Homo sapiens: one gene and its partners. The protein of the gene in region 3 purifies or fractionates together with the protein of the main gene of each other region. This does not show direct contact. Each region holds a gene or a part of one and is shown on either strand. Other genes may lie near its edges.

What was found.
Region 1: the proteins of BASP1 (region 3) and PGAM1 purify together in Homo sapiens (affinity purification with mass spectrometry, with the first as the bait; one large-scale study listed by BioGRID). This does not show direct contact.
Region 2: the proteins of BASP1 (region 3) and FKBP3 purify together in Homo sapiens (affinity purification with mass spectrometry, with the first as the bait; one large-scale study listed by BioGRID). This does not show direct contact.
Region 4: the proteins of BASP1 (region 3) and DCAF8 fractionate together in Homo sapiens (co-fractionation; one large-scale study listed by BioGRID). This does not show direct contact.
Region 5: the proteins of BASP1 (region 3) and DPYSL5 fractionate together in Homo sapiens (co-fractionation; one large-scale study listed by BioGRID). This does not show direct contact.
Region 6: the proteins of BASP1 (region 3) and USP48 fractionate together in Homo sapiens (co-fractionation; one large-scale study listed by BioGRID). This does not show direct contact.
Region 7: the proteins of BASP1 (region 3) and UPF2 fractionate together in Homo sapiens (co-fractionation; one large-scale study listed by BioGRID). This does not show direct contact.

The regions. Positions count from the first base shown.
Region 1 is NC_000010.11:97,429,191-97,431,567, forward strand, and holds part of PGAM1 (phosphoglycerate mutase 1), read left to right. Parts: intron 1-1,188; coding exon 1,189-1,463; intron 1,464-1,764; coding exon 1,765-1,945; intron 1,946-2,377. UniProt on the Homo sapiens protein: Catalyzes the interconversion of 2-phosphoglycerate and 3-phosphoglyceratea crucial step in glycolysis, by using 2,3-bisphosphoglycerate. Also catalyzes the interconversion of (2R)-2,3-bisphosphoglycerate and (2R)-3-phospho-glyceroyl phosphate.
Region 2 is NC_000014.9:45,120,982-45,124,481, forward strand, and holds part of FKBP3 (peptidyl-prolyl cis-trans isomerase FKBP3), read right to left. Parts: intron 640-3,500; coding exon 504-639; intron 1-503. UniProt on the Homo sapiens protein: FK506- and rapamycin-binding proteins (FKBPs) constitute a family of receptors for the two immunosuppressants which inhibit T-cell proliferation by arresting two distinct cytoplasmic signal transmission pathways. PPIases accelerate the folding of proteins.
Region 3 is NC_000005.10:17,224,131-17,227,630, reverse strand, and holds part of BASP1 (brain acid soluble protein 1), read right to left. Parts: intron 1-3,500.
Region 4 is NC_000001.11:160,221,050-160,224,549, forward strand, and holds part of DCAF8 (DDB1- and CUL4-associated factor 8), read right to left. Parts: coding exon 3,393-3,500; intron 1,733-3,392; coding exon 1,602-1,732; intron 1-1,601. UniProt on the Homo sapiens protein: May function as a substrate receptor for CUL4-DDB1 E3 ubiquitin-protein ligase complex.
Region 5 is NC_000002.12:26,851,132-26,854,631, reverse strand, and holds part of DPYSL5 (dihydropyrimidinase-related protein 5), read right to left. Parts: intron 1-3,500. UniProt on the Homo sapiens protein: Involved in the negative regulation of dendrite outgrowth.
Region 6 is NC_000001.11:21,679,974-21,682,149, forward strand, and holds part of USP48 (ubiquitin carboxyl-terminal hydrolase 48), read right to left. Parts: intron 862-2,176; coding exon 835-861; intron 1-834.
Region 7 is NC_000010.11:11,924,310-11,927,809, reverse strand, and holds part of UPF2 (regulator of nonsense transcripts 2), read left to right. Parts: intron 1-3,500. UniProt on the Homo sapiens protein: Involved in nonsense-mediated decay (NMD) of mRNAs containing premature stop codons by associating with the nuclear exon junction complex (EJC).

The DNA of each region.
Region 1 (2,377 bases), on a different chromosome or scaffold from region 3:
CCTCCCGGATTCACGCCATTCTCCTGCCTCAGCCTCCTGAGTAGCTGGGACTACAGGCGCCCGCCACCATGCCCGGCTAATTTTTTTGTATTTTTAGTAGAGACGGGGTTTCACCATGTTAGCCACGATGGTCTCAATCTCCTGACCTTGTGATCTGCCCACCTCGGCCTCCCAAAGTGCTGGGATTACAGACGTGAGCCACCGTGCCGGGCCAAGACTGATTTCTTGGAACCTATTCATTGGGCCAACATAACTCTTGCCACAATAACTACTGTGTATGGAAGACAGATTCATTGATGAATCAGATAGTGCACAGCACTGGGTCTTTCTTTAGTGAGTGGCTTCTCCTAAACTTGGTTTAACATTTAAGTAGGTATACTCTGAGGGTACTTGGTATTAGGCTGGAACTTTGTGACTACAGTAGAGAGAAACCATGGATTAGAGTTTGTGATGTGATTTCCATACTCCACAGTGAATACAATTTCATACAATGGACAAATACAATTGCAAACAAATACAAAAACAAAATAAAATTTCATACAACAAACTGAAGTTTTATCAGTACAGGAAGAGCTCTTCCTGTGTCCTGATTGGGATTTAAATCCTAATTTTCTTACTTCAGAGTTCTAGTAAAATATCTTTTATAAGTGACAATTCCCAGTCTGGGCAACATGGTGAAACCTTGTCTCTACTAAAAATACAAAAATTAGCTGGATATGGTGGCGTGCGCCTGTATCCTCAGCTTACTTGGGAGGCTGAGGAGAAGAATTGCTTGAACCCGGGAGGCGGAGGTTGCAGTGAGCCGAGACCACGCCACTGCACTCCAGCCTGGGTGACAGTGAGACTCCGTCTCAAAAAAAAAAAAAAAAAAAGAAAAGAAAAAGTGACAGTTCTAACTGAAATGCAAACATCAGGATCCTTGGGAATTAGGAAAATGGGGATAGCTAGAGATGGTGGTGAAAAGTTGGATTCTGGAGTCCCACAGCATGGGTTTTAATCTAGGTTTTAACCCACATAATAGCTGTGACCTTGGATAGAGTGCAAGGATAAACAAAACAGTTGGCCAAATATTTTCTTTTTTGGCCAAATATTGTCATTTGGACTACTTGTACAGGAGATTGATACTGAAGAACATTTTGGCTCAGAGTAGACCTGGTTAGCTTATCACTTTGAACTTCTGATTTCCAGATGCTGGCTATGAGTTTGACATCTGCTTCACCTCAGTGCAGAAGAGAGCGATCCGGACCCTCTGGACAGTGCTAGATGCCATTGATCAGATGTGGCTGCCAGTGGTGAGGACTTGGCGCCTCAATGAGCGGCACTATGGGGGTCTAACCGGTCTCAATAAAGCAGAAACTGCTGCAAAGCATGGTGAGGCCCAGGTGAAGATCTGGAGGCGCTCCTATGATGTCCCACCACCTCCGATGGAGCCCGACCATCCTTTCTACAGCAACATCAGTAAGGTATGGACAAACAGAGGTTTGGTCACTCCGCCCAGGATCAGGGGCTTTTAGTAGTGTCTGCCTAATCTCACTGAACTTACAATTCATGATAAAATAGTTAATTGTAATCCTTCCTTCTCCAGTGAATGACCTTCACTTACTAGAAGATATGGTTGATAGTTTACTATCTCCTTTTTTGTGTTTCCATAGTCAGATTTTATAAAACCCTGTGAATGTGAATGGGCCAAAATCGATACATCATGAAGTCTTTTAACAGATGTAACTCTTAATAAGTGGTGAACTTGGATTCTTTATTGCTTAGGATCGCAGGTATGCAGACCTCACAGAAGATCAGCTACCCTCCTGTGAGAGTCTGAAGGATACTATTGCCAGAGCTCTGCCCTTCTGGAATGAAGAAATAGTTCCCCAGATCAAGGAGGGGAAACGTGTACTGATTGCAGCCCATGGCAACAGCCTCCGGGGCATTGTCAAGCATCTGGAGGGTATGTATGTTTTTTCAGAGGCGCCCTCAAGGAAGGATAAAGCAGAACTGCCACAAATCAGGGACTTGGTAAAAAGGAGTCTAGGGAAGGGCTGGACATGTTAACAGCTTTAGAGATGGTCTAGATTGACTTCTAGTGAAAAAACACCCTCAACCCTTGTTTCTCAAAATGTGATCTGCAGAATAGTGACAGCTGGACCCCCTGGGAGCTTGTTATACATGCAGAACCTCAGGTCTCACTCCAGACCTGTTTCAGAATCGGCATCTATTCCCCAGGTGATTTGGATACACATTAAAGATTGAGAAGCTCACCTCTAGATTGGTATTGTCAAATGAAACTGCTAGTGAAAATCCTCCTTAGCTTGCCAAGCACAGTGGCTCATGCCTGTAATTGCAACATTTTGGGAGGCCAAGGCAGGAGGACCACTTGAGG
Region 2 (3,500 bases), on a different chromosome or scaffold from region 3:
ATGATATACTCTAATTTATTATTAAGAAATTTCCATTGGAAATTATTAAATTCCAGTGGAAAAATATAGTGGTTTGATTTCAGAATTACAATACTATGTATTTTAAAAGAAGGAAAAAATTTACAAAGATCATCCATCAATAAAATTCTGGCTGTAAAAATAATTACATTCTTAACAAAGGGTAGAGGGGTAGGACCTATACTTATATCACAAAACAGCATACTATCCTGCCTTTTCTATTCAAATACTAATGCCTTACTTTGGGACATTAACCAGGTTTAGACTGAGATTCCTTATCTTTTGCTTTCCAAAGAACAAGAGGTCTTTAGCCAGCCAATAATCAGTGAACTGAAGACCTCTTCCAAGTAGATCTTGGGGGAAAGTATGTCTGGATGAAAGTAGGTGACAGTCAGGAAAAAGGTACTGCTAACTACTCATCTGTCTGCCACCCAAGTATTTAGAATCTCTTTAAGCCAAAAACATAAGATTCCATTTAGACTTACTTGTTTGAATATTAGTATCAAAAACAGTCCCATCTTGTAGTGTTCCTGTATACCAGCAGTGAACAACATCTCCCTTTTTGGGAAAGTTGGTTTTATCTCCCTTTTTCAGAACAGATTTAGTATATTTTGGTGGACCCTAAAAACAAAAAACAACACACACACACAGAGTTATTAATTTGTGTCCTTTAAAAGAATGACAAACAATAGCCAACAATGACCAAAGTCAGTTTAAAGAGTTTGATGGATTTGGTAATAAATAAACAAACAAAACCCTCAGTATCTAATTTCAAGGCTGTGATGTGACTATTAGTAACTTACACATCTATAATTTAATTTCAAATAACTTCCAGCTTCTTTGGAAGCCTAAATTCTTCTAATAAGATTCTGTTAATAATTCACCAAACCATAACATGATTTCAGTTATTTCCTAAAGTTAAAAAAAATCATTACTATTTAATTCCTATGAAATCATAAGGCATTAAAATAAGGGATGGTGACTTCCCCCCCACAAAGATTTGAACTGTTTTAGCAGCAATAATTGATATTACTAGGTGTTTTTATAATAACCAATTAGAATGAATACAGTGATATTGCCTCTGTCCCCGATTTGGAAAATAAATTCACACAATGGATGAAATTACCTAAAGAAATTGCTATAACAGGCATATTTCCTAGAACAAAGTAGGATTATCAGGGTCTTCTACAAAAAAGGTTACATATTAATCTAATCAATAGCAATTCATATATGAGAGGAAAGCAGACAGAGGAACTGTCAAGAATCTTAGGGAGTTAATTAAAAAAAAGAAGAAGTGTACCGAATTTAAAAGTATCCTTACCTAAATCTATTTGGTTTCTGAATTCAGACCAAATTCAGAGGGATCTGCATTATCCAAATCTATATTTGGTTTCTAAATTTCATAAAATAAATAACAAAGGTGTGCTTGGATATCCAATAATTCATATCTATTAGTTCCTGAGTTTGAAAAGCAAGAGAAAAGTGTTTTCTTTATTCCTGACCTATTTCTTTTTTTTTCTGAGATGGAGTCTCACTCTGTCGCCAGGCTGGAGTGCAGCGGTGTGATCTCGGCTCACTGCAACAACCTCTGCCTCCTGGGTTCAAGTGATTCTCCTGCCTCAGTCTCCCGAGTAGCTGGGACTACAGGCGCCTGCCACCACGCCCAGCTCATTTTTTGGATTTTTAGTAGAGACACGGTTTCACCATGTTGGCCAGGATGGTCTCGAACTCCAGACCTCGTGATCCGCCCGCCTCGGCCTCCCAAAGTGTTGGGATTACAAGTGTGAGCCACCGCGCCTGGCCTATTCCTGATCTATTTCTAATTGGTCAAGTTATGCAAATTTTTATTCACTTTCATTTCCCTAGCTGAAGGTTTTATCCTTTTCCAAAACTTGTAAGTAAAAATATCTGTGCTGGGTGCGGTGGCTCACACCTGTAATCTCAGCACTTTGGGAGGCCAAGGTGGGTGGATCACTTGAGGTCAAGAGTTTGAGATCAGCCTGGCCAACATGGTAAAACCCCATCTCTATTAAAAATACAAAAATTAGGTGGATGTGGTGGCGTGTGCCTGTAATCCCAGCTACTCGGGAGGTAGAGTCAGGAGAATCACTTGAATCCAGGAGGCGGAGGTTGCAGTGAGCCAAGATGGCACCACTGGGCGACAGAGCAAGGCTCCATCTAAAAAAAAAAAAAAAAAAGTCTGATCTCCTTGCAAATAGTCTACCTCTTGGGCAAAAGATTCTCTCCCTGACCAAACCCTAGCTAGGGTCCTCTGAGACCTCTTCTTCACAAGCCTTCAACCTTGGACTATAAAGATTTGAACAAACACAAGTTTCAAATAGCTCAAGGCCTTATTCCTAGGAGGACCTGATCCCTCCTTAAAGTGTCCGCCTAAGAAAACTTAAGGCTGCCAAAAAAAATTTACTGTTTGTTCCAGCCAACGCCTCAAGATGAAGATAGGACCCCTGTCTCTGTCTCTGTGGGAGCCTGATTTTGATAAGCGCCAGTTGGCAAACTCAGATGGGTTTCATATGGACCAACCCCACTTCCTACTTTATGTAATTTTTCACTTCTCTAACTCTGCTTAAATCCCTCTCTACTCCTTTTTTTTTTTTTTTTTTTTTTTTTTTTTTCAGATGGAGTCTTGCTGTGTCACCTAGGCTGGAGTGCAGTGGCATGATCTCGGCTCATTGCAAGCTCTGCCTCCCGGGTTCACGCCATTCTCCCGCCTCAGCCTCCCAAAGTAGCTGGGAGTACAGGCGCCCGCCACCACACCCAGCTAATTTTTGTTTGTATTTTTAGTAGAGACGGGGTTTCACCATGTTAGCCAGGATGGTCTCCATCTCCTGACCTCGTGATCTGCCCGCCTCGGCCTCCCAAAGTGCTGGGATTACAAGCGTGAGCCACCAGGCCCAGCCCCCTCATTCTTTTAAAAGGCCCAGTTACCCCTCCACAAATCAGACTGGAGTTTAGCTCTTTCCCCTACTGTCAGTAGGCTGAATAAAATCTGTTTTCACCACTTTAATGTCCGATTGTGTTTATCTCTGACACCTTGAGTCAGTCCTCTACTCAACTGCTAGAGTGATATTAACAATTACTGCTTATAGTTTTGTGTCCAAAGGCCTAAACCATGCAGGATCTTAATCTATCCCTCCCTGAAGTTCCAGAATTCTATCAGCCTTTGAACTCTTGTCTTTTCCATGACCTTCTCAGTAGAGCAGGTGCATACAGCATAGAAATCTTTCAATCAGCTGGGCGCAGTTACTCACACCTGTAAACCCAGCACTTTGGGAGGCCCAGAAGGGTTGATCACCTGAGGTCAGGAGTTCGGGACCAACCTGGCCAACATGGTGAAACCCTCATCTCTACTAAAAATACAAAAATTAGCTGGGCATGGTGGCAGGCGCCTGAAATCCCAGCTATTTAGGGGGCTGAAGCAGGAGAATCACTTGAATCCAGGAGGCAGAGGTTGCAGTGAGCCA
Region 3 (3,500 bases):
GGAGTTTGTGACCAGCCTGGCCAATATAGTGAAACCCCATCTCTACTAAAAAATACAAAAAAATTAGCCGGGCATAGTGGCGGCACCTGTAGGCCCAGCTACTTTGGAGGCTGGGGCAAAAGAATTGCTTGAACCTGGGAGGCGGAGGTTGCAGTGAGCCGAGATCGTGCCACTGCACTCCAGCCTGGGCGACACGGCGAGACTCTGTCAAAAAAAATATTGTATATATATATATATATAAAAATTAGTCAAGCTTGGTGGCGTACACCTGTAGTCCCAGCTACTAGGGAGGCTGAGGCACGAGAATTGCTTGAACCCAGGAGGCAGAGGTTGTGGTGAGCAGAAATTGCGCCACTGCACTCCAGCCTGGGCGACAGAGTGAGACTGTCTAAAAAGAAAAAAGGACGGGTGCGGTGGCTCACACCTGTAATCCTAGCACTTTGGGAGGCCAAGACAGGTGGATCACGAAGTCAGGAGTTCAAGACCAGCCTGACCAACATGGTGAAACCTTGTCTCTACTAAAAATACGAAAAAATTAGCTGGGCATGGTGGCGGGTGCCAGTAATCCCAGCTACTCGGGAGGCTGAGGCAGGAGAATCGCTTGAACCCAGGAGGCTGAGGTTGCAGTGAGCTGAGATTGCGCCACTGCACTCCAGCCTGGGCGACAGAGCAAAACGAAAAAAAGAAAAAAAAAAAAAAGAAAAATGAGTTATTCAGAGAAGATTCCAGGACACTTTATCTAATCACAGTAATAATGGCTATAGTAAATACCCAGGTGATCATCTAACCTCACCCTGCCTTCTGGGTGCATTGCAGAATTAAGGAGTGGGAAGTCACTCCAGAACTCTCTGCCTGTCCATCTAAAGTCAATCTGATTTCTCTACATTTTCCTTTTCTCCAATCATCTTACACCTAAGGCAAATACAGACACTGTGATCCTCTAATGAAATAGCTGAGAACATTAGTAAGGGTTAAAGACAGCAAATATTCCTACAGCCTCTACAGTTTCCAAGGCAAGCTCAGAGAAGGACAGGAGACCATCCTATGAAGACCCAATAACTCCGAGGAAACCTTTCTTCTCTGTCTCTTTAAGAAACAGCTAGTTCTCTCTGTCAGTGGATACTGTTTTCCCCCTTTTGATACACTATTTCCCCCATTAGATCTTGTTACTATTTACCTTGGTTATTGTATTAGTCTACGTGGTAATGGTGTTTTGAATAGACTGTCAAAGGAAAAATGAAGTGGGTCTTTTCAAAGTCACTTTGCCATGCAATTCAGGAAATTTGTAATTTAGAAAGCTCAACCAGGAAAAGTTTTTATCTAACAGCTATTTCTTCATAAACTTAAAAAAGAAGTATTTTTCTCTAATAGAACCACAGCTTTTCTTTAAAAAGACAAAGAAGTTTTAATTTTGGTTTATTTTAGGAATATATCCATTTCTGAATCTACGTAAGTGTAATAATTAAAAGCATTATGAAAATAAAAGTTACCTATTAATTGTGGGTTTCTCTGGAAAATGTAAATTCAAACCTGCTCTTATTGACCTCAATATGTCATTTTAAATGTGAAATTAAAATTGTGTCTCATCAAAAACTAAACTTATCACAGATTATCCAAACACAAATGCACACAGTTTACATTTACCAACATCAGTTTCAAACATCCCAATAGTATGCTTTAGAAAGTGTTTTAGCATCTTAAGCACTTATGTTCCATATTTTAAGGACTACTTCAGAATCTAACAGATTTTTTAAATCCTCTAAATCACCCCAAATACTATAAATGGTAATTTTAAATAAAAAAGATTAAACATCCCGTTGTATGCAGCTCTCAAACCAATAAGCCAGATAACGCTAGAAATCGGCATAAAAGCTCTCCATCCACCACCTGCCACGACAACGTGCACACTGGATCTGCCAAGAGGGCCCCGAGCATTTCAGGGGTGGGTGGGATGCCTGACTGCTCCGCTTGCTCTATAGCCCCCAAATAAGTCTAAAGCCAGCTGGCGTTCTTTTCAAACACATACCCACCATCGCCAGCTTCCCAGCCCCCAACCACTGTGCATTTTGGGAGAAAAACAAGGATTTAACTTAAATTTTAGAAAAACTAAAGTTTAGTTTTATGAAGAAAGTTATTTCAGTGCATGCCATATACTTTTTGGCATATAAAGGAAACCACGTGCACATAATGTAAGAAGCAGAAAGGAGTAAGTTGAGGGGAAGATGGCCTGTGGATGAAGTGGCAGCAGGTAGTGACTGCACCGTCCCCCTGGGGCATGTGTGGTGTATTAAAAGGCCGAAGAGGTCTCCTCTGGGGGAGATCATGAGACGGATATAGGATCCAGACTGGTTTTTTTTTTAATGGTTCTAGGGTACAAAAAAAAATGGTAGAAAAAAAAGTTTTACGTTGCAGACAGTGAGTAAGAGTGACTCAATTAGACATTCTCTGCTTCTCTCTCAGAAGAGAGGGGCAGCAGGAGTGAGGCTTTATGGGGAAATAACCTGGGTTTCCACGCAGCCCATAAGCAGCTCGTGGGACTCTGAGCAACCCACTAACTTCTCTAAGATTATTTTGAGTTCCAAAATGAGTGTTTAGTCATGAGCTTTTAAACCTTCTGCTCCAAGGAAAGTACTTACAAAGGACTGAGGTTTCGATAGTGGTTAAAAGCAGCCACTGGCTTTCTGTAAGTGGATCCTGCGTGGACGCGGAACAAAACAGATTGACCAATTTAGGCAGGACTTGGTTTATTTCTAATCAGGCAACACTAACTACACAGTGGCAGACGGTCTGCTAGAGCCTGGTCCATATCTCAGAGCAAAATTGCAGATAAGTAAGACATTTGGGGTTATGACTTCCATCTGCAATGTCCAAGGAGAAACGTGAAAGTATCAACCAAATCCACATTTATAGTCCTCAGTAAGAGCAACCACAATCATCATACTAGAAAGGAATGACTTAAGGTATTAGTCTCCATTCACTATGACAAGAAGCACCTCTAATCTACAAGCAATTTAACGTAATACTGATGAAATATTAGAAGTATACACTGGATCTCTTCCATAAATAATTTTTCATTGAAGAAGTTAGTATCGCTCTCTCTAAATTAATACTGAAGATGTCAATATGTGAAAAGGCTACCCATTTTATTCAAGAGCCCCCCTTCCCCTTTTTTCCCCCCCTGAAGAGTCCATATTACCTAAGATAAAATGGCCAAGGCTTAGGAGAAGTACAGTGTAGCTCCATCTACACGGATTGAAATCCTAGGAAACTTTTTAAAAGACATAACCACTATATCTAAAATCCCCTTCCTTACAGTGAACACCTGACAGATAGAGTAAAATATATGACTTCCCTCCAGAATCCGTAAGATACAAAAACCTGTTTAAGGAAGCTGTTAAACAACAATTTACCCAAAATGAGAGTGAATTCACCTTTGCTCAACAACAAAGTGTCCAGAAGGACAAAAGCAAATCCTTGGGCATATCCCTGAAGTAAATGTC
Region 4 (3,500 bases), on a different chromosome or scaffold from region 3:
CTGGGGCCCACCCATCCCAAGTAGATGCCTTCCTCACCTGGGCAAATGGGTTAATCATCAAACCCTGGCATTGGCTGAGCTAAAAGCAAACTGGCCTGCAGAATGCTTTTGGAGAATGGACAAATGCTGGCCTGGGAGAGGGCATTCAGCCCTGCATCTCTCTGGAACAGAATGCAAGGCAATAGCTTATGTCAAGAAAAAATTCACTGGCCCCTTCTGACTTCCTTTCTCTAAATGCCTATTGCATAATTCCCATTAAGACTCAAGTGTTTTGGGTTTGTTCACTGCAGATGACACAGGGGGACCTATGGAAGAGTTGGAAATGAAGCAGGGAAGAGTGAGACACACCTTGAACTTCTAGACTCCTCTCCATTTGTATTCAAACCATAAAAACCCTAGATCTATGCAGGTCCCAGGTCCCTGAAATTTAGAGGAAACCAGAAGAAAATTTGAAATACCCTTTCACCAGGGCAAGAAAAACATAAGGAATGGGATCCTGATTGCAAAGAACCATTCTAAATTCTAAAACCACTCTCTGAAAAAACCTCATCAAGAGATGGCTAGGCTCTTTGAAGTTCCCCACAGCTAAGAAGGAATAAAAAGGAAGAGAGACTTAGCTGTCTCAGTCATTCCTTAGAGGCCTTGGATAACCAGACTATTCTGGGCAATCAGTATAATTTAGTCTTCCAAACTGTGTTTTTCCCATCTCCTGTGGTCCAAAAACCTTGTAACAGAAAGCGATTGAACTCCTTCCTAATTCTAGGTCTCAAAAAAAAAAAAAAAAAAAAAAAGATAAGGTTAACCAGATACATCTTAAGAGCTGATTGCTCTTCATTCCCTAACTCGATTCTCACTCTTCCTTTTTGCCCTAACTCCACAGAGGGCTGCAGAACTCAAAGGCCAGGCAGACTATGATACGATCATGGGTTATACAGCAAGCAGACTGCTCAGCTACTAAAAAACAATTGCCACATTTGCGTTCTCCTTATATGTACACATGTATATGTGTTTGTTATCTATTTGAATGTACGCATGACATTTCACCCCTAAATACTTCAACATGTATCTCTTAAGTACAAGAATATTCTAAGTAATCAAATCAATTTAATATTGAATACCATGTTATCTAATGTATAAACCATATTCTAATTTTCCCAACTGTCCAAAAAATGCTCTTTATAGCTTTTATCTGCTAATCTAAGATCCAGCCAAGATCACTACTTAGTTTAGTTTAAAGGGAAGAGACATGGAGAAATCTTTAGCCTTGTGTAGGAGGGTACGCCCTGAACACTAACGCTTTTTCATTTGGAAAAGGTGCACGTCTAGAGATAAGTTACATCACTCAGGACAGGACAGAGGTTCTTCCCTAAGATCCCTTTCTTGTCTCAATAAACTGTGCTTTACAGGGACAGAAGATAGGAACAGGAAGAAAATACTCCATCAAAAACTCAGCACCTCCAGGCTAACTAGTCTTTTATGGCTGGCTGGACCTCTAAAACATGGTATCATGTAGTCACAGTGAGAATTCAGTGTCCCTGCTAAAACCTACCTTAATGACTGGAGAGATTAGGGAGCCAGCCAGCTCAGCACACCATACTCACCACGCCTCCCTTGTCCCCCTCCATGAACTGAATAATCTGGCAGGATGATTTCTCCCAGAGGAAGATGTGCCCACAGTCACTACCGCTCACCACAAACTCACTCTTGGGGCCATAGAAATTGACGCCTTTTACTGAAATGATAAATGAGGGAAGAAACCACATGAGGGTTGGCATCAGGCCTATATACATTCATCTCAAAGGGAATTTAGTTATTCACAAACTCTAAATCAGCTAGATTATGCATGTTTAACAGATAGTTATAGGAATCACACCAGTCCCAAGAGATGATTTATATTCTCCCAAAGAGCTCGCTCCTTAGGGCAGAGGAATCTGCAGTCCTTTAGCAGCAGCCTTAGTCTCTCAAGTTTATACCCTATCAAGTAACCACAGGCCTCTCTAATCTCTTACCTGTCCCACCCTGAATCATCCCAGCTCTGCCTACTCTTAGGCAGCACTGTCTTATGGCCTAGGATTATCTTTGATATGTGGACTTCATTGGTACCTTGTCAATATTTCTGGGTCATCAGCTGATCTGAGACTGATGAAGGTATATGCCACAACTGCCTCGAGAAGCAAGTGATCTGTGCTTGCTACCATTAACAGGGCTCCACTCTCCGGAATCAGTAAAAGAAGCCAAGAGTTCCAATGACTATGGTCAGTACAATATTGGCCATGAGACTGGCACCCTTCCTTTATCTGCCTGTGTACTGAGATCCAAGAACAGATTTTTCCCTCCCTTCTTACCAGCTCAGGAAAAAAAATAAAACTAACCTCTAACTGCTATCTCCAAGACAAAATCATGACAGGTATCTGCTAGGAGTGGTAACAATAGAGAAATGATTCCTCAACTTTCCTGGACATTAGAATCATGTGGGTAGTTTTTAAAAATCTCAGTGCTCAAGTTGCAGTCCATCCCTATTAAATCAGAATATATGGGGTTAAGGCCAAACTGTTATTTTTAAAAGAACACCAGGATTGGGATTGGTGGCTCATGCCCAGCACTTTGGGAAGTCGAGGCAGGCGGATCACTTGAGCCCAGGAGTTAGAGACCAGCTTGGGCAACATGGTGAAACCCCATCTCCACAAAAAATACAAAAATTAGCCAGGTGTAGAGGCATGCACCTGTAGTCCCAGCTACTCACGAGGCTGAAGTGGGAAGATCACCTGAGCCCGGGAGGTTGAGGCTGCAGTGCCTGGGAGGTCAAGGCTGCAGTGAGCCATAATTGCACCATTGCACTCCAGCCTGGACAACAGAGTGAGATCCTGTCTCATAAACACAAAACAAAACACATCAGATGATTTCAATGTGCCCCAAAGTTTGGGAACCACAGACATGGAACAAAACAGGCCAATCTTGGGCTAGTTACTACCACCATTCCTCCTCTTCTGCCTCATCTAAAAGAATTGTTTACTCCTCCTTCCTAGAGGTATAAGGTCACTCCCTATTTTAAGCAATTCAGGACCACTGACTAAAGAGGGCTTTCCCTGACTCCCTAACAAGGCATTTGTGCTTCTTTTGAAGTTGCCTGAAATCTTAAAAACAGTTAGTCTAGCCTCCTTATGTCCAAACCAATTAGAAGCAACATTATTGGAGTGGCAAGAGATGCTCTTGAGCGCTTTCTCCTCTAGCATAGCGGAGAAAACATGAAAACTCCAGCCCAATTCAGGATAATCCCTCAGTGCCCATGGCAACACAGGCAGGTAGTTTCTATTTGTATAACCTGAGTAAGACACTGTGGTTCTCCAAAGCCAACAGGCTTGGGCCAAAGAAACCTAGGAAGACAGTCTCACCTGTGGCATTATTTCTGTGGCCCTTGTATCTCTTAACATACTGGGCCCCATCACTGTGAGAGGAGTTGAAGAGGTAAATGTCTTCATCATTGTAACTGGCCAGGAGCT
Region 5 (3,500 bases), on a different chromosome or scaffold from region 3:
ACAAGGTAAGGTGCAGCATTTTGTAATGGGATAGCCTATTGCTAAATTATTTAGTTAACTGTGAATCTCACACCCAACTCATAAGGTTCTCAGCTTGAGGTACTGTTTAAAGGCATGGATCCTTTTATGGTTAGGGTTTCTTTCTTTTTTTGTTGTTGTGGTTTTTTGTTTTTTTGAAACAGTCTTACTCTGTCACCCAGGCTACAGTGCAATGGTGTGATCTTGGCTCACTGCAACCTCCACCTTCCCAGTTCAAGTGATTCTTGTGCTTCAGCCTCCTGAGTAGCTGGGGCTACAGGTATATGCCACCATGCCTGGCTAATTTTTGTATTTTTAGTAGAGACAGGGTTTCGCCATATTGACCAGGCTGGTCTCGAACTCCTGACCTCAAGTGATCTTCCTGCCTCGACCTCCCAAAATGCTGGGATTACAGGTGTGAGCTACTGTGCCTGGCCTAGTTAGTTCTTTGTGTCAACTTTGCTAGGCTATAGTACCATTATCCAATAAAAGATTCATCTAAATGTTGCTGTGAAGGTATTTTGTAGATGTGGTTAACATCTATAATCAGTTGACTTTATTTTTTTTTTAATTTTTGAGAGAGTCTTGCTCTGTTGCTCAGGCTGAAGTGCAGTGGTGTAATCACAGCTCACTGCAGCCTTGACCTCCAAGGCCCAAGCAATCCTCTGACATCACCCTCTCAAGTAGCTGGGACCACAGGCATGTGCCACCCCACCTGGCTAATTTTTTTTAACTTTTGTAGAGATGGAGTTTCCCTATGTTTCCCAGGCTGGGTGGTTGACTTTAAGGAAAGGAGATTTTTCCTTGATAATGTGGGTGGGCCTCATATGATTAGTTAAAAGGCCTTAAGAGAAAAACTGAGTTTTCCCTGAGAAAGAAGAAATTCTAAGTAAAGAGTGCACCATGAGCTCCTGCCTAGTTTCCGGTCTGCCAGCCTTCCCTACAGATATGGGACTTGCCAGCCTCTCCAATTGCATAAACCAATCCTATTGGTTTTGTTTTTCTGGAGAACTGATTTTCTGTTTTTCTGGAGAACTCCAGTTATCCTGGAGAACTGATACAGATGGTAATCAAACCCCTTGAGTTCAAGGCCTGGCTCTGCCATGTCCCCATCTGGGTGTCCTTTTTACTTTTGTTGCCTCATTTGTAAAATGAGGATAATAACAGTAACCTAATGCATAGTAATCAGAACCACCCCTGGCACAGAGTGCTTTGAAAGTGTTTGTGAAATAAATAACTGTGGTTCCAAGTTGCACAAAATTCTGTATTTCTTAGCTGGAAAACCTGAGTTTTCTTTATTCCCAATAATTTGCCATCAACCAAACATGATGACTCTTCCCCACACCAAGAATTACATAGCCTTGGGACAACAGCTCCTCACCAGCCACGCCAGCCTAACCCCACTCAAAGGAATGATGCAGCAAAGCTGAGGTCACAGCACTTCTGGAACACTCTTAATTCTCCAAGTTCTCAGCTGCTAAAAACAGCTGAGCTTAAAGAGGCTGCCAGGAAACAGACTCCACAGAGAGCTATTCCTACTATTTGCAAGGGTGGGAGTTTTAGAAAGGAGTCCTAATCATTCCTTGTGTTCCCACTGTTAATCCCTACAGCAACTTGCCATGGCCCCTTGGGATGAAAGATTAAATGGGGAATCAAAGTGTTGTTTTTGTGGACACACATTTTAGAGGGAGAATATGATGCTGCTGCTGATGGTGATGATAACTTTTACTGAGCACTTACAAGATGCCAGATGCTGCTCTCAGTGCTAACCATTAACACATGTAAGCCTCAGAACAACCCCAGATGTAGATACTGTTAAGTTGGTGCAGAAGTCACGGCAGTTTTTGTCATTAAAAGTAATGGCAAAAACAGCAATTACTTCTGCACCAACCTAATACAACCATCCTCATTGCACAGATAAACAGAAAGTGGCCAAGGTGAAATCTGAACCCAGGCTTTCTGGCTCTCCCTCCTGTACACGCTACCGCTGAGCCTGGATTGTGACGAGGGAGGAGGGAGGCGAGGGAACAAGTACAGAACAGGGCTGTGATTGATGGGAGTGCTTGGCAAGCTCGGGTTCAATCAATGGTTAAATCAGCTTATTTTAAATGAAACAAGTTTCAAAGACTGAAGTAGAACAAATCATACACCATGTTCCTCCCTGAATTTCTTTTGTTCAAGTGTATAATTTGTGCCCACTTTTATACATAAATACCAAAGCTCACAAAAGATTCATGTTATGGTATTTCAACCTTTCATCTTCACATAAAAAAAAGCAAGGCAAAGCGATTTTGAAATTATTTCTCATTTATGCACCAGCAGTGCAATGAAATCAAACACCTGCTTATTGGAAAAATGATAAAACACATTTATTCTTATTTGCTCCCATATTACACCAAGTTTTCCCTACAGGACTTCATGTTGACAAAGATATCTTGTTCTACAGGATTCCTGTGAATTAAGTCTTAGAAGACTTTTCTGGAATATGTTTTTATACCTCAGAAAACAAAAAAGATACACAAGATCAGATTCTATCAGAAACTGGTAAATTTTCACACCAGGAAGATAGACTGGGTCTCAGATACTCTTGTCCAACTTCTCTGGCTCTCAATATTTTTCTATGCCCCAAGAAAATGATCTGAACACACAATTCACATTTTTTTTTTTGAGATAGAGTCTCACTCTGTTGCCCAGGCTGGAGTGCAGTGGCACGATCTCAGCTCACTGCAACCTCGGCCTCCCAGGTTCAAGTGATTCTCCACCTCAGCCTCCTCCCAAGTAGCTGGGACTACAGGTGTGCGCCACCACGTCAGGCTAATTTTTTTGTATTTTTAGTAGAGATGGAGTTTCACCATGTTGGCCAGGCTGGTCTCGAACTCCTGACCTCAAGTGATCCTCCTGTCTCAGCCTCCCAAAGTGTTGGGATTACAGGCGTGATCCACTGTGCCTGGCCACAATTTACTTTTACCCCAGAGACCTGCCTATAGTCATGCTGTCCTTTGGCTTATAGTCCCGTGGAGCTAATGCAGGATCATACAGAATCCTGGGTCAGAGAAGCTATTAAGGGGAAATTCTCAGATAGCTATGGCAGGAGAAGAGACGTGGAAGTGCCACAAATGAAGTTTACGCCAAGTCCTGAGACCTGATTTTGGCCAACTGTGTAAACTTGCCTTGCTGTGGAACTCTTTCCAGAGATAGAAGCATTAAGAATAATGCAACAACCCTGCTAATGTTTGCACCTAGAGAGGTTACGCTGACAACAGCCAGGCCTTCACGTCAGGCTGGTCATACCGGCATTCCTTGTCTATGGATTCCCTGCCATGAGGAACAGACTGCAATGGATGTTCACAGAGTGCTTTAAGAAGATTACATCCTTTTAAAAATCCATAAAATTATTACAAAAAAGAAGCCAACAAAACACTCCTTCCTGAAATTGTTCCCTTTGGGTAATAATATGAAAACATGTTTCCCATTGGAGCTCT
Region 6 (2,176 bases), on a different chromosome or scaffold from region 3:
GTGAGCCACCATGCCCGGCCAATGACCATTTTTCATAAAGACGTTTTTTGCTTTGTTTTGACCCCATCAGGAGTCCCTTTGTAATGGTAGCATGCAGACAACACAGCTGCAGCAAGAGGAAGACTTTATTTTGGCCAGTAGATTTGTCTCTCATTTGCTTTAGCAAGGAATAGCTGGTATGTGATTCAAAGTCATTCCTTAGAAAATCACAACCTGCCAGGGGCTTCTGGAGTGGCCAGCAAAGAATCAAGACAGCAACAGGAAAATCCGAAAACGTCAGAGGTCTGTATTTGATGACTTCTTGAATATTATCGGTGTGCACAACTACATGGCCCAGATGTAGTACGAGCACCACCGTGTCTCCTCTTGAAGTAATAATCCAACAAATGCCTTAATGCTAAGTGATTAATTAAATCTTTTCACTGGACTTGATAAAACCTGACAAATTCTTGTGCCACTAATTCTTAATAGTTACACACTGTTTTGCTCTAGGAGGGGACTTGATAGGAAGAACTGGGAAAAGGTTAAAAATAAATCTTGAAATGCCACTAGCTAATTTCCCAACCTCCCATAAAATGAGAAAGGGAAGGCCAAATGGACATCTGGCAAGAAACAGTTCTAACACAAAAGCCCCAGCTGAGGCCCCATTTGAGGCCTGAGTGTTGAAAAAGATAATGAAGAAGCTTGAGTAAGAAATGCATTTAACTAAAATTAATTTCAGTCATGAGACTCAGATTGGATTAAAATTTAAAATCAAATTATAGCCTTCGCTTTAACAGAAAATTACAGGATGACTCTGACATTCATGAACAAAACATGACAAATGTAACTTACCTTTAAACCCTTCTTCTGGCATACAAACTGAAAAAAAGAAAAAAAGAAGAATTCCAAATTGAAAAGATTGTCGTGACAGACAGTAATATCATTTCAATGCTTAAAGACAAAAGTTTAAAATAACTTTTGATTACCTTTGTCACCTGTAATAATCATCTTTGAAGTTACGGATGTTACTAATTTCAGAACAATCTTTGTTTCTGTTTTTATCAAAGCAATACGTATGCATCATTTAAAAAGTCAAATACTGACAGGACAAGGTTTGTAACTAGGGCACACCTAGTGCACGACTCTAGGAGTGGCCTGGGAGGAAGCCATGTAACTGACTCCTCTGGAGCTGTCTCTCTCCCCTTCCTCCTCCCATTCCCAAGTTCTGGAAGGAGTCACTTTTGACTCACACAGCAGCTTCTTCTGGTATTTAGCCTATTTCTAAATAACATGCTTTTCATAATTTTATTTACTTTTTTTTTTTGAGAGGGTGTCCAGCTCTGTCACCCAGAATGGAGTGCAGTGGCATGATCTCGGCTCACTGCAACCTCTGCTTCCTGGGTTCAAGCAATTCTCCTGCCTCAGCTTCCCAAGTAGCTGGGATTACAGGCACCCACCACCACACTTGGCTAATTTTTGTATTTGTAGTAGAGACAGGGTTTCACCACGTTGGCCAGGCTCGTCTCGAACTCTTGACCTCAAGTGATCCGCCCGCCACAGCCTCCCAAAGTGATGGGATTACAGGAGTGGGCCATCGTGCCTGGCCTACTTCATAATTTTAGATAAAAATCTAATAAATTCTTCAGTGAAGGATACAAACAGCTGTTTTACCACTTACATAGCACCTGCCCCGACCCATCCTCCTGATGAAGTGGTGTTTGTTGTTGTTAAGCCAGTCTCCAGCGCTGGCATTACTTTTTACGCCATTAATACTAGTCACAGTTGAATGCCTTGGTGCACCTTGGTTATATTTACTACATGGTATGACTTGGTCTTTCTGGGCTTGGTAACTACTGAATTACTGATGTGTTTCATTTTCTCTGTATTTATCTCCAATTCACGTGTAAATTCTTAAAGACCTGTAACCTCTTGAAGACAGTCATCATCCCTTCCACTTTTCCTTGTGGCATCCCTTCCTGAAGCTCGCATCCCACCACTCCAATATGGATCAGGTGTCTTCGCTGCCTGCTGAAGAACAGTAGTTCTGAGACTTCCCTTCACCATCTTCTAGGGCATCTTATCCTAGGCTGATCTGCTATTTACTGGGTCCACTGTTGATTCTTTCTTGATTTAATGTTTAAGAAGAAGAACACATCCTCACACAGTATCATGGCAGACGGTGCATGACAGATCA
Region 7 (3,500 bases), on a different chromosome or scaffold from region 3:
CTCAGATAACTCTAATCAAATTGTAATGTAGAAAACTGGCTTGTCAAGACAGTTTAGAGATCTGTTCTTTAGCATCTGTTGAGTATAATTTAAAAAAAAAATCCAAGTTGGAAATGACCTGTAAACCCATCTAATTAGGCACAATAAGATATTAGGTTATTTTTAATTATCCAAACTTTATTAAAGTCCTTTAATTAAGCCTGTTTTATTGCTGCTAAAATGTGGACACTAGCTAGGTTAACAGGCAATGAAAAATGTTCATTTCCTGCTTTTGCATTTTCTTAGAGTAGCTTTAAATATATGCCACAGTGTTCTTGATAACATCTATTCCCTCCTGTCTCATCATCAGAGACCAAAACTGTTAGAATATTTGTATTTCGGTTGGTAAAAAGTAATGCGGTTTTTGCCAATAAAAGTAATGGGAAAAACTGCAATTACTTTTGCACCAGCATAATATCTTGATGTTTTCCATCATCTTCACCTGTTCATATTGCAGCCTAACGTCTCTGAATAGCACGTTTTTATTAATCCCTAACCCCCTCACAATTCATGTATCGCAAGTATAGTGTCTTAGTAATTTGTGTAGACTCACTATGGAGTTGGATGACATAAGGGGCATCCAGTAGGATTTGCCTCCCTCCGTGTACACTCATCCAGGACTGCACTGTGGAAGATGGAGTACAAGACAGGGTCTTTACCTGCACGGTTGTGGTCCAGTAGGGAAGCCGAGTATGGGTACTTGAAAGATAATTCCACCCTCTTCATTTGTCTGTTTCAAAAACCTTGGGTGAGAGTCTGTTAAGGACCAGGCAGGAGATATGTAAGCATGTGTGTGCTGTCATCGACGTGAGCATGTGTGTGCTGTCATCGACGTGCGTGTGAACAGAGGTAAGCCTTTCTTAACCTGGTTACCGGTGTTAGTCACTTTGCAGAGTTCCTTCACTTTCTATTTTCCCTTCCTCCCTCCAATTCCTCCTTGGAAGAATCGGCTACACTTGCCCCTTCTTCCTTGCTCCCACTTGGGTGGCTTACCCCTGCCAAGTCACAGCTGGCAGTGGGAGGCATTGCCCACCCCAGTGGCTATGCTAGAAAAGAGGTTCATTATTGACTCCTGTCACCTTCTCAGTCCCTAGGTCTAGGCAGCTTCTGCCATCACTGGCATCCCCACCTGCCATCTCTTGGCCTCATCTCAGCAGCACTTTGCATTGTAGGCCCTCCTTGTTCTCCCAACAGACCCTTCCTTGGCATCTGTGATTCTGCTGGCTTCTGGGTTTTCCCTTCCCGCGATCACTGTGGCTCCTGCTGCTGACACTGCCTCCTTTCTGCGCTTCCCTGCCTAGGGATGTCTGTGTTCCTTGGGCTCAGCCTGGGCCCTCTTCTCCTTCTGCACTCTCAAAGGAGGTGTCATCCCTCCCAGTGGCCTGACTTCCATCCAGGTCTCCAGCCCAGATCTCACATTTTCATTTCTGACTTTCCACCCCACTGTGACTCAGAGATGGAAGACTCGTGCCCCTGCCCCAGACTCCTCTTCCCCAGGGTCTCCAGTGCAGGGAGAGGAAGCGTTGTCTGCCCTCTTGTCCACAAAAGAAAAGGAAGTTGTGTTATTGACAGCTCCTCCTCCCTCAATCCCTAAATGTAGTTCATTAGCAAATCCTCTGCATTCTGCTCCCAAATGGCCCTCACTCTTGCCTTTTCTATTCTCTGCCCATAGCCAAGACCATGGGTCAAGCCACCATCACCTCTTGCCTGGATTGCTGTTGCTGCCTCAGCCTCCTCATCAGCCTCTCCGTCTCAACCTTCAACCCTTTCCAATTCATTCTCCCGCTATAGACCCAGTGTTCTTTCTAAAACACAAATTTGATATCTGTGTGTGCCCTTCTGCTTAAAATCATCCAATGGCTCCTCGTGGCTTGTAGGATAAAAAGTCTAAACTCCTCAACTTGGTTCCCAAGGCCCTGTGGTGCAGGTGGACATACATTACTGGCTTCATCTCCTGCTGTTCTTTCTCCTGCTGCAGCCTAGCTGACCTTTAGTTCTGTGTTCTTTTTGCCTCCTCTGTGTGGAACAGTCTCCAGCTGTTCCCCTGGAGAACTCCTGCTCCTTCGGGTCCTGCCTTGGTGTTCCTGAGTCTGACATAGGTCAGTGCGGATCTGCTGCCATGACTTATGGTATTTCTGCAGACCTTGTCCTCCTTAAGTGCCGCTTAGCTTGTCTCTATTCCCCATGAGATTACAGGCGATGAGGGCTGGGACCAAGTCTCATGTTGTTTCCATTCTGTCTCCTTCACAGCTCTTGGTGCCTGGCACCTAGTAGGTGCTCAGTAAATATTTGGTGAATGGACAAAAGAACTTTTCACAGTCTGTGTTCAGTCACTGAATAAACGTTCTCATTCCAGTTCTGCTCCCTAGCTCTTCCCTCTGTTTTTCTTTTTTGTAAGAGTCCTAGCTTTTGAGCTAGCCACTCAACCTGTTTTAAGATCTTTTCTTAAAATAGCACCTTAAAAAAAGAAAACCTAACTTGTCCATCAGTCTTAAGAATAGCACTCTGTAAAGTATCACGAATGGAATTTTTATAGTCAATGCTCCTAAAGTATAGGTGCGATAAACATGGTAGATGAACAAACATGGAAACATGAGATTTTACCCTTTAGAGGACCAGATGTTCTTTGCCTTTTTTAAAATTTACATTTTAAGGCTGGTTGTGATGGCTCATACCTGTATCCCAGCACTTTGGGGGGCCGAGGAAGGCAGATCACCTGAGGTCAGGAGTTCGAGACCAGCCTGACCAACATGGTGAAACCCCGTCTCTACTAAAATTAGAAAAATTAGCCGGTCATGGTGGCGGGCACCTATAATCCCAGCTACTCGGGAGTCTGAGGCAGGAGAATCACTCGAACCTGGGAGGTGAGGTTGCAGTGAGCCAAGATTGCGCCATTGCACTCCAGCCTGGGCAACAAGAGCGAAACTCTATTAAAAAAAATCAGTTATTAATATTAGTAATGTTATACAGCAGATAAAGGGAAATTTATTTGGAAACTGATTATAAAGTAGTTTAGGTCTAGGAGCAGTGGCTCACGCCTGTAATCTCAGCACTTTGGGAGGTCGAGGTGGAAGGATCGCTTGAGCCCAGGAGGCAGAGACTGCCAGATCACACCACTGCACTCCAGGTTGGGCGACAGAGCCAGACCCTGTCTCAAAAAAAAAAGTAGTTTAAAAAAAAGATTTTTTTTTTTGAGACGACATGTTGCTCTGTTACCCAGGCTGGAGTGCAGTGACACAATCTCAGTTCAGTGCACCCTCCACCTCCTGGGTTCAAGTGATTCTTCTGTTAGCCTCCCGAGTGGCTGGGATTACAGGTATGCAGTCCACCACTCTTGACTAATTTTTGTATTTTTAATAGAGACATGGTTTCGCCATGTTGGCCAGGCTGGTCTTGAACTCCTGACCTCAGGTGATCTGCCTGCCTGGACCTCCCAAAGTGCTGGGATTATAGGTGTCAGC